Linked DNA regions of Homo sapiens. The protein of the gene in region 2 interacts with the protein of the main gene of each other region in a biochemical or structural test. Each region holds a gene or a part of one and is shown on either strand. Other genes may lie near its edges.

Evidence for each region. The genes of interacting proteins can lie anywhere in the genome.
Region 1: the proteins of RAP1A (region 2) and BMX form a complex in vitro, tested with the Homo sapiens proteins (one study listed by BioGRID).

What each region holds. Positions count from the first base shown.
Region 1 is NC_000023.11:15,517,807-15,524,806, reverse strand, and holds part of BMX (cytoplasmic tyrosine-protein kinase BMX), read right to left. Parts: intron 6,879-7,000; coding exon 6,814-6,878; intron 6,611-6,813; exon of another isoform or gene 5,880-6,610; coding exon of another isoform or gene 5,828-5,879; intron 2,462-5,827; coding exon 2,220-2,461; intron 1-2,219. UniProt on the Homo sapiens protein: Non-receptor tyrosine kinase that plays central but diverse modulatory roles in various signaling processes involved in the regulation of actin reorganization, cell migration, cell proliferation and survival, cell adhesion, and apoptosis.
Region 2 is NC_000001.11:111,692,789-111,699,788, forward strand, and holds part of RAP1A (ras-related protein Rap-1A precursor), read left to right. Parts: intron 1-2,552; coding exon 2,553-2,621; intron 2,622-4,652; coding exon 4,653-4,709; intron 4,710-7,000. UniProt on the Homo sapiens protein: Counteracts the mitogenic function of Ras, at least partly because it can interact with Ras GAPs and RAF in a competitive manner. Together with ITGB1BP1, regulates KRIT1 localization to microtubules and membranes.

The sequences.
Region 1 (7,000 bases), on a different chromosome or scaffold from region 2:
ATTTGGGGTATTAAGCAGAGCATGAAGAAGTGCCTACCTCTCAAAGTCTAAAGGCTGTTTTATCTGGAATGTGGAACCTATTTCCTGTTTGCCTTCATAGTCCAGACTTTTTTCAAAACCACAGTTCATAGAAACAAGTTTCCTTAGCAAGGAAATGCTCCCCTGGCTCTATTTCAAGGAATGCCTAGATAAAGCCCTTAAACTCTAAAATGCCTCTCTCTCCACCTTCCCAAAGAGCCTTGCCCACTAGAATAGCTTTTATTTAGCCTTGTTGTTTCTAAAAACACTTAGAGAATGTCCATCAATAGTGCATCACTTAGGTTTACCTAGTATCTATACAACTGGTACTTACAGACATTAAAAATAATCAGGCAATTTGCACAACAATGTAAATGTACTTAACACTACTGAACTGTATGCTCAAAAATAATTAAGATGGTAAACTTTATGTTATGTATATTTCACCAAAATTAAATGAAAATGAAATTTTAAAAGTCAGGTGTATCCTCATGTATTCAAATAGGAAAAATGCTGAAGATGTCAAGTGAAAAGAACAAATGACAAAGACTGTATCGTGAGAACTTACTTGCTTTTGTATGCACATGGCCACATGTGCATAGAAAACATTTTAGGGGAATGTAAATGGAATATTCTGTAATATTTGAATGATTTAATGGGGGCATAGATTATCTTACTAAACAGAAAGTAGATTAAAAAGAAGCTCAGGGAAGATTGTAAGAATGACAGAAAGTTGATAAAAAGTATTATCCCATATATGAGATAAGAATCATGGCTGCACTTTAAAAAGTCAAGCTCCATGAAGACCTTTTAGCAATTATTATAATTTACTTGCAGATGCAATGCTGCTCATGCTAAGAGGTGATCAATCAATCCTTTGTTAAAATAACTAGCTTCCTGAAGTTCTAGGGAAAATCCACAGTTGGGACTAAACCTAAGGAGGTGCAAATCTAAAGGAGTGTCAAAAACTCAATAATGGCAGCAACCCCATGTGAATCGACAGTTCCTCCTGGTTATTTGAAAACAGGGCAGTCAGCTTCACCTCACACCTCTCTCAATGAATCACTGGAGTTTCTGTCAGGAAGGGGACCTGGAACACAATTAACATGACTTTCACTCTCCTTGCAACTGGGTTTACTGATCCTCTCCTTCCACAAGAATGGTGGGCTGCAGGCGCACAAATGTAACCCCATACCTTGGGCACCAGGTATAGATTAATACACTAGGATTCTAGCTCCACTTTGGAATGAAAGGGACCATGGCTTATTATACTGAAAAAAAATCAAGAAGAACACACTTACATTATTTCAAATTCCATATGGCCCTGTATTATTGAAACTTTCAGTAATTGGCTTTAGGCAAAAATGATGAAGATGGAAAGAACAAAGGAATAAAAGGACATGGGAAAAATAACTAAGAAAAGAGATACATGGTGAGTCAGAGAGATGCTCTGTATCCATTGTGGGGAAAGGCAGACATGACTTCCCTGCAGGGATGCTGATAACTGAGTGAGAAGATGGCAGAGAGTAGACAACATGATAGGAAGGAGGTCTGAGACAGGAAATAAGGAAGGGGAGTCACTTGACCCTTTCCATATGGTCATCTTGCAATTCAATTCAACATTTATTGGGCATCAAGTGTAGGGCAAATTCAGTGCCATACCAAGAGATACATACATACACAATTTACATGTTGCCTTCAAGGAATTTTCAATTCTGGCTTTAGATAGAATCTTTAGGCTAAAAACTGTGAGAAGACTAATCAGGTCAGGAGAGGTGAGGTTGTACATTCCAAGAAGGCAAGCCATGGCCTTGCTTGAAATGCTATTTGCCATTTGGCTAGTGATACTGAAGCACATTACAAAAGTAAGCCCATCCTAAGCTCTTTCATATAAAGGATAGATTTTTAAAGATTCTGTATTCTGGAATGTGGAGATATTTGGGGGGAGAAGGAGGAGAAAGGGAAGGGAATACAATGATCAGGCATTACTGAGATCATTAGATTGGATAATCTAAATGGAAAATCTATGCTTCTCAGCCCCAGTGGGGCCACTGCTTCCCCAGACTTCTGGCTCAAGCACTGAACATTTTCTGAGAGGACAGCCTAAGACCTGGATCAACAGCTTTGAGGCTGAGGTCCAGGGCAGCCGGGGTAGTGTTTACTCTACATGCTGGGCAGCCCGTCTGAAAGCTGGGGATTACCTTTTCAGTTTTCTTACTTGCCACCAGTCAGGGAAGTCTTCCCTTGGAATATACTGCATGTTGAAGTTTGGCTGGGAGCCATAGATTTTCTTTGAGTTGCTGTCATATTGCGCTAGACTGGTACTTGAAGATGGTGGCTGGGAGCCATAGTTTTTCTTTGATTCGTTGTCATATTGGGCTAGAGTGGTACTTGAAGATGGTGCATCCATTTTGAGAACAGGAACTGCCCGAGGTATCTTCAGCTTTGGAGGGGAAGAAATTTTAATACATCACAGTGAGGCACAGATTCAGGTACCGGGAACTGACAATTAAGTATATCAGCTCTTGAAAGAGAGAGAAAGGAAGGAGAGAAGGGAGGGAGGAAGGGAGGGAGGAAGGGAGGAAGGAAAGAGGCAAGGAAAGAAGAAAGGTATGAGCAAGGATATGGAGCAACTGGAACTCATATTTTGCTGGTTGGAGTATGAAGTGGTACAACAACATTGGAAATTTGTTTGCAGAATCTAGTAAATCTGGATGTGCATCTGGTCATACCCTATGACTCATAAATTTTACGTATATATACACAACAGGGAAACCAAAAGACCTGTAAAAGAATGTTCATAGCAGAATTATTTTAATTAGATAAAAACTAGAAACTGCCTACATGCCCATCAAGAGGATAAAATAATAAACATGTTGTGGTTGTTGAAGGCTGAAAAATGGTCTCCCGAATATGTTCATGTCCTAATTCCCAGAACCTGTGAATACCTTACGTGGTAAAAGAGACTTTGCAGATTGTAATTAAGGATTTCGAGATGGGGCAACTATTCTGGATTTTGTGGGGGTGGGCCTGATGTAATCAAAATGGCCTTTATAAAAGGGAGATAAGGTGGTCAGAGATTAGAGAGCTGTGAGGATGGAAGCAGAGGTTAGAGAGTAGAGGTCCTGCAACCTTCTGGTTCTGCAGACAGGGGAAGGAGCCAGGAACCAATAAATGTAAGTACCCCTTAGGAACTGGAAAATGCAAGGAAACAGAATCTTCCCTAAAGCTTCCAGAGGAAACACAGCTGTGCAGACCCATTTTAGACATATGATCTTCCAAACTATAAGAGAATAAATGTATGTTGCTTTAAGCCACTAAATTTGTGTAGTAATTTGTTAGAACAGTAATAAGAAACCAAAACAGTTGTATATTCACACAACTGAATTCTATACAATGATGACGGTAAATATAATCACATACTAAAAAAATAAGCGAATCTCACAAATTGAAGAAAAGAAGACACACAATAAATGACTACACACTTTATAATTCCAGTCATATAAAAGTCAAAATCAGGCAAACAATCTATGATGTTATAAATCAGGTTAGCAACTACTTTTGGAGGGTAGTAGTGACTGAAAGGGAACATCAGGGTGTCCCTGGGGTTCTGTGATGTTGTGTTTCTTTATCTGAGGGTGGATTATACAGAATTGTTCAGTTTGTGAAAATTCATCAAGCTGAACACTTAGGATTTGTGTGCTTTTCTATGTTAATGTTATATTTCAGTTAAAAATTCACAATATGTGTGTGTGTGTCTGTGTGTGCGTGTGTGACAGAAAGAGATGCATTTAATATTTTTTTCATGCTATATTTTAGTTTTTCAGAAATTTCATTTACTTGGAGTTAAGGCTTTGACATTCTGGAAATTTTAATTATGCAGGACAGTGTTATTTATGAGCTGTGAAGTGGGTTATGTCCAAAGAAAAATGCACTAGGAAGTTCCTTAAATGGAAATCATTTAAGGAAATCTCTTTGAACAGAACAACTAGAGAGCTGATTTTTATTTCCTCCATTCAGAAAATAAGCCCTCTACTGAATACTCTGATAAAAAACAAAACAAAGAAAAACATACTTTACATGATACCCTCTGATCCCTGGTTCATTTGGGAAGCTTATAATCAAAACAGGCTTATGAACCCTTAGCCACTGATTTGCCTAGCTGATAATTTTCAATATATTGGCCAAAAAGTTCCCTGCTGGAGACTAGATGCAATGGTTTCTGGCTCTTAATTATCTTCTGCTCTTAGACTTGTCAAAACAAACTTTATTGGTAGTTCATCCTTTTTAAAGTGCAGAATTCAGTGACTTTTGTAAATTTATCAACTTGTATAACTATCACCACAGCCCAGTCTTCCCATCACTCCAATAAGATCCTTCATACCTATTTGCAGTCAATTCTCATCCCTACTCTGGTCCCAGGCAACCACTGATCACCCTTTGTTTCTATAGATTTGCCTAATCTGGGCGTTTCTCCTAGGTGTTTTAGAGGGCCATACTTTTCAAGCTTCAGGACTGAAACATATTTTCAAACCCAAACAGCAATGTTGCTAATAACAAAGTAAAACTCCTAACGATTATAATTGTTTCCTAGGGCTACCATGACAAATTGCTACAAGTTTGGTGGATTAGAACCACAAAAATTTATTGTTTCACAGTTCTAGAGGCTAGAAGTCAAAATCAACATTTCAGCATTGCCATACTTATTCTGAAGCCTCTAGGATAAAATCTTTCCTTGCCTCTTCCAGCTTCTGGTGGTTCCAAGTTGCTATGGTTTGGATATTCGACCCCTCCAAATTTTATGTTGATGTGTGATCTCCAGTGTTGGAGGTAGAGCTTAATGGGAGGTATTTGGGTCATAGGGGCGAATCCCTCATTAATGGCCTAGTGCCATTCTCATGGTAGTGAATGAGTTCTCACTCTATGATTTCCCATGAGAGCTGGTTGTTGAAAAGAGCCTGCTATCTCCCTTCCCTCTCTCTTGTTTCTTCTCTCTCACCATACAATTTCTGCACACACTAGCTCCCCTTCCCTTCTGCCATGAGTGGAAGCAGCCTAAGGCCCTCATCAGATGCCGATGCCAGTGCTATGCTACTTGTACAGCCTGCAGAACGGTGAGCTAAATAAACCTCTTTTCTTTATCAATTACCCAGCCTCAGGTATTCCTTAGTAGAGCACAAATGGACTAAGAAACAGGTGTTCCTTGGCCTGTGGTAACATAACTCCAATCTCTTCCTAGGTCTTCACATGGCCTTCTCCTCTGTGTATCTCTCTGTGTCCTCTCATCTTACTAGTCATTGGATTTATGGCCCACTCTCATCTTTCGTGTGATTTCATCTTGATCTTTAACTAATTACATCTGCAAAGATCCTAGTTCCAATAAGGTCACATTCTGAGGTTCTACATGGATATGAAATTTGGGGGACATTATTCAGTCTACTACAATAATGGATTATTTTTGTCTTTCATGTTGATTCATGAAAATTATGTGGCTTTTACTTAGAAAGAGAGAAGTGTGTGCGAATGTGTGTAGCTGAAAATAAGTACCCAAGACACCATAGATCCAATAGATGGGCGGAGATGTCCCCTTGCTTTCAGGTGAACTTCCAGAGAACCAATGGGAAGCCATTTTTTGTGTATCCTGGCATTTGAGGAGGCTCACACCTGCCTGGGAACCCTAAAAACAGAAGGCTGTGGCTATGAACCCAAGAGAGTAGAGCAAAAAGACAGCAGTAGCCTGTACTTCGAGAGAGAGCTACATACAGCTTAATTAACCAGAGCAATCAAGGTTTTGTTTGTTTTCTTATAGGCCAACTCCACTCTTGGGAAAAAGTTGGCTGACAGCCATCTTGAAAGATTGAGGGCTGAAAATCCAAGAACTGAGGATCAAGATCTCTCCCCTGTCATAAAACTACATATGGATCTGCCCTTCAGTAGGAAATTCCTAAAAGTCTCCCATGAGATAAAGAATCAGTGCTGGAAAACTCACTCCGATACCACCACCACCAAATCATGATAGAAACAGCTATGTGTGTCTTTTTTTAATTAGACCTCATCTTCCTTGGAACTAACTCTGAAAGGGCCATGAATCTCAGCCCCCCCAAAATCCCTCCCCAAAAGCATGCTGCCAGGTGATGCAGGCCCAAGCTAGGTGACAGATGTTTAACTTGGAATGATGTTTGCAGTCATGTGATAATAACATTGGATGGAACAATTCAGAGGCTGTTCTTATGATTACAAGTAATGGGGACATTTTTATCATTTGAGAATGACTGCAAAACTATGGAATTTGGCAAAGACTTTATTTGGAAGCAGGGAAGAAAGCCCACTGAATAGCTTTGAAGGGATAATGGAGGGAAAGAATTATGTTGTTTTCTGCTTTTGTCCTATAGAGTTTCATTTCAACACCAGGATACTTCCACAAAGCAGTCTTGGCCATGTTGATGGTAAGGAAAGAATGACAGCTAATAACAGCTGCCTGTTATGTGTGATGCCATCTTAAGGACATCTCCCGCATGCACCCATTTTTTCTTTTTTTTTTTTTGGTGACTATTTATGGGCTTACTGGCTAGGAAAAGACACAACAATGAAATGCAAAAATATGAGATATTACAATGGTTCTATATTTGAATCCGCTATTCAATACCACCCATAGCTATTATCTAGAGCTCATGGTTTTTCTCTCTTTGCTGAGAAGTCTAAATGAATTCCACATTTTCTAGTCTTGAATCTGGCAACTCTTGGTTTATTTAATATATCCTGACCATGAAAAACATTTTTAAAATGTTGACTTACCACTCTGTCTGGGAAGGTGGGAACTCTGTGTTTCTCTTCATTGACTGCAGTATGCAGATTAGCATCTGAACATTAAAACAAAGTAATATCAGAAGGAACTTTAAACAAAACAAAGAGAAACACTCAATGTTATGAATTAAAAGAATGAACCAGCTTGTGTGAGCAATACTCCAGATTAAGTGAATCC
Region 2 (7,000 bases):
GCTGAGGGTAGATACCTGTAAAATCATAGAGTATCTCTTCAAGGTTAAATAAGCTATGAATAACATCAGTTACTTTCTTGGGAGTAGGATTGGATAGCTGGGAACAAGGGTGGTAGATAAGCTTAGTTATCACTGCATAGCCTTTTGTGCCTTTTTGAATTTAGTCCTATGTCCATGAATTACCTTTTCAAAAATAATTTTGGAAAAAGTCCATAGGAGTGAAAGAGGTCTAGGGAGATACTAGAGAGAGAAGAGCAGAGCCCAGGACTGAGCTCTGAGTACCTCTCAACCTTTAGAAAGTAGATAGGATTGGAGGATCTAGCATAGAAGAAGGTGTCTTTACTTGATTCCTCAAAAGTCAAGTAAAAAAGAGGAAAGAGATGATCAGAGAGCATAGAGGCAGTTGGACATGATAAAGGAAGCAGCTTTAGTCAGGTCATGTTGCCATAACCATAATGGGGTGGGTTGAAGATTAAATGAGAGCTGAGGAAATGGAATATAGACATTTGAAGAAGCTTGATTATGAGAGGGGACAGAGAATGGGGGCAGAAGCTGGAGAGATATTGGGGTTAAGGGAGGTTTTTGTTTTTGTTTTAGAATTGGAGATAGTAAAGCATATTTGTATGCTGGGGGCAATTCCTCTCCACTGGAGAGGAAAATAAGGATACAGGAGAGGGAAAGAGGAGATGATCCAGTACAAAAACCTGAGGAATAAAATTATAATCTATGTGAATGAATGAATGAGATGTCCCTGAAAATTAAGACAGAGGATAAGATTCAGAGGAGTAGTCAAACATTACTTTTAGTAAGAAAGAAATGAGAAACGTTGGATTGTTTTGCATTTTTGCAAGTCTTATTAATGTCTGGCTTATAGAAGGCACATGGGCTCTTTTGCCTGCTTCTGTATCCAGTCTCTTTCAATAGCACATGTTCTATACCCTTTGGAAGATTCCACTGTAAACTTATGAGAGAAGAAGAAGAGTACCTCTTAGAATACATCTTAGTATTGTTAGGAAGATAGTTTGACCTTAGGGAGCCTCTGCCTTGGACCATATTTTGAGACTCTCTGCTCTAGCCTAAAGCATATTAGGAAGCTGTATTAGACTGCCTTTTTTTTTTTTTTAAATCTTGAATCAGCATCTTGCCCTGGAGTGCAGTGGCGTGATCATGGCTCACTGCATCTTCAACCTCCTACACTTAAGCAATCCTCCCACCTTAGCTACCCAAGTAGCTGGGACTACAGGTGCATGCCACCACACCTGGTTAAATTTTTAAATTTTTTGTAGAGACAGTCTCACTATGTTGCCCAGGTTGGTTTCAAATTCCTGAGCTCAAGCAATCCTCCTGCCTTGGCCTCCTAAAGTGCTAGGAGTACAGCATGAGCCACTGCATCCAGCGTAGACTGCTTTGTATATTTAAATTATGTGTCGTACTTAGAAGATGAGGTGATTAAATCCTTGATAAAAATCATGATTAAGGTTTTTGGTGTGATTATATCTTGAGTTGCCTTTGAATAATAGAAGCTTAGTAGGAGAAAGAAGTTTGTTTACTATATTTGAGTTAATCTCTTTAGCTCAAGCTAAAATAGTATATCAAATATTCCTCTGAGTAATTTAAGTGTAGATGACCTCAGTCCACATTCTTACCCTTGCTTTTTAGGCAATAATGTACCAGACCCTGTTTTAAAGTTACCTAGGAAATATCTTAAAACCGTCTTCTGTACTTTTTTCACTTACTGAATGATAAATACGTATTTTCTAGTATGTGCTTTTGGATGCCTTTAAAAGTTGATAATATCTGAAAAAGATGAATGGGCAATATTTTCCAATGGAAAAAGTAAGGCTTTGGAATCAGGAAGATGTATGTTTGAATCTCAGCTGGCAAATAGGAAGAATAACTATTTCTGGGACAAATGTGAAATTTGAATGTGGTTATAAATTAAAAGTGACTAGCTTAATGTCTGGAACATAATAGACATTCAGTAAGTTTAAATTTCCCTTTCTCTTTTCCACCACAATTTAGAAAGGCTTTAACAAATTTACAAGATGCTGCTTGAGGTCCAGCTACCTGGGAGGCTGAGGCGGGAGGATCTCTTGAGTTCAGGAGTTCAAGGCCAGCCCAGGCAACATAGCAAAGACCCTGTGTTTAAAAAAAAATTAGAACCTTTGTCACTCCATTAAGGGCAGAGGGCATGGGATAAAAGTTACTATAGATATATAAAGGGGCAATAGGAGTTTAAATATTGATAATTTTTCATGTTTTAATTAGTTCAGATATGTTATTTGTATCCTTGTATATTAAGACTTAATGTAATTAACAGTGTATTATCAGTATTGATGACAGTTTTTAACATGACTACCTCCTTTCATAATAAATGTACTCTTAGTTATGGATGTATCCTTATATTGAAAGAATTAATAATATACTTTACATTTACGTGTTTACCCAGAATTTTCACATAATTTCAATTAATCATTATAATTTGTAGGTTAAGTAACATTCAAAGGAGTTTTCCTTTAATTTTTTAATATTTCTCTTTTTTTTTCCCCCAGACAGTTCAGTTTGTTCAGGGAATTTTTGTTGAAAAATATGACCCAACGATAGAAGATTCCTACAGAAAGGTAAAATGTGAAACTTGTACACACATGCTTACAAGTAGTTCCTTATGATGTTAAAATTTGATCTGTAGATTTGCTTTTTGAAAATAGTTTTGAGAAATAATACAAATATTGTGCATCTGTTTTTAAAAGTTTCATCAAGACAGAACATTTCTTAACAGAATACTACTTTGATATTCAGAGCTCTATGTTCTGTTACTGATTAGTGACTTGTTCCTTAATGTGGACATTTTCCTGGTGGGGAATGTTGCCACATATGAAAAAATTGCATATAAATAGTAGGTGTGTTTTCAACTTACTCTTTTGTTACCAACAATTAAGACCACCTTTATGCTTGAAGTTATCCAGTGACTGAACATTTTTATTTTTGTTTAGTTTTATAAGTTTAAAGATATCTTTAGACTACCAAAAAATTAGAGTCTGTGTAATACTATAATTGGGTTATATGCCATACATTTGTCAAAACCCATAGAATGTACCATGCCAAAAGAAAATCCTAATGTAAACTGTGGACTCTTGGTGATAACGATGTGTTCATGTGGGTTCATCAGTTGTAACAAATGTACCACTCTGGTGCAGGATGTTGATGGTGGGGTGAGGCTATGCATTTGTGGTGGCAAGGAGTATGTGGGAAATCTCTGCACCTTCCCCTCAGTTTTGCTGTGAAACTAAAACTGCTCTAATAAAGTCTATTTAAAAGGGAAAAAAAATTAGGTACTTGGTCTTGACAAAAAATATTCTGTAGAAGACCAGCCAGAGTTGTGGAAAATTTTCAGTATTTTCTATGTCAAATATATTGGGTGGGGTGGAGGTTATAAAAGGCTAGTAGCCAAGAATATTTTTTAAAAAGATTAAACTTTAATAGGAAAGGATTGCTTTTGAAGACATTTTTAGAATTTACCTTTAATAGTGCTGTAACTTTTGTTGAATTAATTTGTTAGTTCATGAAGGACTACTAGTAGAGCAGTTTCATTGTCTTCAAATTGGAAACAGAATTATGCTCTAGATACATCAAGAAACTATAGTCCTAATTGATTATTCACTGAACATTCCCAGTTACAAATTTTGCAGATTATCACACTTGTCCCATAAGTGGTGGGGTGGATGAGTTTGTGGTCTGACCAGTGGTGCCCCTCATCAATGTCTGATCTGACACAGAAGCAGAGTTTAAAATAGTCTTTAGGTTAGCACATTTATTTTTAGAAGACAGTGTTGCTCTACTGAAATTTCCCCAAAGTAAGTTGCTAGTTAAAGCTTTAACTGCAAAGCAAGATCTGTACCTAAAATTCTAAGGGACTAACTTTTCTTAATCCCTTCTTTATTAAAACAGTTTTCCACACAGTTGATAGTTGATACTTTCATTAGACCAACCTTCTTTTCTTTTATAAGACCAATGGGTAAATAGAACTCAGTGTATAAAATTTCACCTTTCACATAGAGCTTTTCTAGAAAAGTGCCTTTTTCTTGAGGCACTGTTTTAGCTCATTGCTGTTTATTTTAGTACTCCTGTGTTTCTTTTATGTCTTAAACTCAGATTTTACTGTGTATTTAATTTTCTGCATATTTTAGTAAAATTTTAACAACTTGAACATGGTAAGTTGGCAAGATTTTCTTTACCCCAAAATGTTGTGCGCATTTTGAGCCATTTAATATTTTTGTACTTTGTTTTCTTTGGAGATAATATAAATACACATATGTACTTTTTTTTCTGTTAGAACTATACTTGTTCGTTGAAGTTTTCCTTAAATTTCAAAATATGACTTTTGCCTTTTCTAATAACAAATAAGAATCGTTACAGAGGTCAGAAAATATCTAAACTCAGCATTAACCATCTTGGCTTCTGTAATATGAATAGACTGTACTTGAGACCGCTGTTCTTTATTGTGGTACCAAGTTTACCCCCAGCCATTACAGCATACTGCTGGAGACAGGCTTTGTATTTGTTAATAGTTACTTTGATGGAAGAGGTGGGAAGAAAACAGAATGAGATTTTGATGTTACTCTTTAACCTTTTTTTTTTTTTTGCCCCCACAGCAAGTTGAAGTCGATTGCCAACAGTGTATGCTCGAAATCCTGGATACTGCAGGGACAGTAAGGATGTTTTCTCTTTTTTTGATAGATTTTAATTTGTGAGCAGGTTTTGTCATCTGAGTAGGTTTTGTCATCCAGATAATTCTGAGTAAAAGTAATCATTCTGATTAAGAAGAAATTCTCTGAACATAGGGATTCTTAAGTATATGAAATCAACTCTGATGTAGTTCATGCTCACATATCACAAAGTTCACCTGTAATAATCTGTGTGTTGGGTTTCTTCCTACATTGAGGTAAGGATTATGCTGTCAGTGATTTTTTAAAATTTATTTTAAATTTAGAGCTTTAGTTAATATTTGTATTTCTATGGGTTTAAATAAGACCTTGTCTCTTGGCACCATAGTCATTAATTTTTATAATTTTTTCTTTTCACTAGCATTTTGACATCTCAAGGGGCTGGTGACAGATACATGTTTTCTGAGGAAGGCAAAAATCTTCCTCAGAAGATTTAGAATTATTTTGAGCCTCCTTTTTCTAATCTTTAAATGAGTATAATGATGTTAGTACATCATAAGGTGTTTGTGATAAGCAAATGAGTTAATAATTATAAATCATTAGGCATAATGTCTGTTACACAGTATGGAATTGTGTATTTGCTTTTATTCTTCTTCATTAATACCATCACCTTTATAATTTTTATTAATAACTGATGGTTTCCAGTTATACTGCCACATAAAATACATACATTAAGCAATCTTTGCTTTTCTTTGTTTATTTTTCTCCATGCACATAGACTTGACACATTAGGCAATTCTTAGCTTTAAAATGGATGGGTTCGTTTTTTGTTTTGCTTAAGAGACGAGGTCTTGCTCTGTCACCTAGGCTAGGGTGTAGTGGTGCAATCATAGTTCACCGCAGTCTCCTGGGCTCAAACAGTCTTCCTGCCTCAGCCTCCTGGGTAGCTAGAATTAAAGGCACGTACCACCACCCCCAGCTAATAAAAAAATTTTTTTTGTAGAGGTGGTTTCGCTGTGTTGCCCAGGCTAATCTCGAACTCCTGACCTCAAGTGTTCTTCCTGGCTCTGCTTCTGAAAGTGCTGGGATTATAGGTGTGAGCCATGGCACCTGGCTGGCATTTTTAAATGTGATAAGTTGTTTAAAATTCAGCACAAAGTTTTCCACTATAATTTTTATAAATGATGGAAACATTTCAGATAGTTCAAAAAAGCATGTAAGCAAATTGGAGTGATTTTATACAACAATATAGTACTAATTATACTGTATTTTTCCATTCTTTTTTGGGAAAATGGCTTAACTCTTATCAGGGACCTTTGCCCTCACAACAAGCTTCTGGTAAAGACCTTCTGAAACTACATTTTCTATCAGCTGAATCAAGCTATCTCTCCCTCTCCCACCCTCCTGCTCTCTAATGTTTTTAGCTTCTGAATCAGCAGAATTCCCCTTTGTTTCCAGAGACCCTAATAGCTAAAATGAATACTTTCTGCTTTTTTTTTTTTTAAATCACATCCACAGTGTACGGGCATTCTTCTTTCTCTGTCCAGATTGTAAGAAGGAAGTTCTCTATCACAGAGATCTTTACTTTGTGCTATCCAATATCGTGTCTGTCTCCCATCTAGCACTCAACACGCTGTGTTATAAGGCCTATTTGCTTGTTTGTGTCCCCAGTACCTTGCATAAAACCTTACAAACAGCTGCATAATCTTGTCTCAAAATCACTCCTTACACTTTGAAGATTTTTGCTTTCTCTCTTTCACATACACTGATTCAATCAGAATTCTTAGTGATTTTACTATCCATATAGAATCTATATGGATATTATAAATGATTTACTACCCTGGCTTGGCCTGTCATTTCCTTGATGTCCATCCTACCTTTAAGGCATTCATACCATGGTTTTACTCTAGGCTATGTGATTACCAATAAGTATAATACCTCTCTAATCTAATTTCCAAGCATCTTATCCTCCATTACTCACTACTTTTTTCTTTATCCATCTCACTTCCTCTTTTTTTTTTTTTTTTGAAACAGGGTCTCTCTCTGTCACCCAGGCTGGAGTGCAGTGGTGTGAACACAGATCACTGCAGCTTCAACCTCCCAGGGTCAAGAAATCCTCCCACCATAACCTCCTGAGGAGCTGGTGCTACTGCAGGTGCATACCACCACACCTAGCTTTTTTTTTTTTTTAATTTTTTGTAGAGACAGGGTCTCACTATATTGTCCAAGCTGGTCTTGAACTGGACTCAAGGGATCCTCCTGTCTTTGGCCTCCCAAAGTGCTGGGATAACAGGTGTGAGCCACTGCACCCAGGCCATCTCATTTCCTTTAGTGCC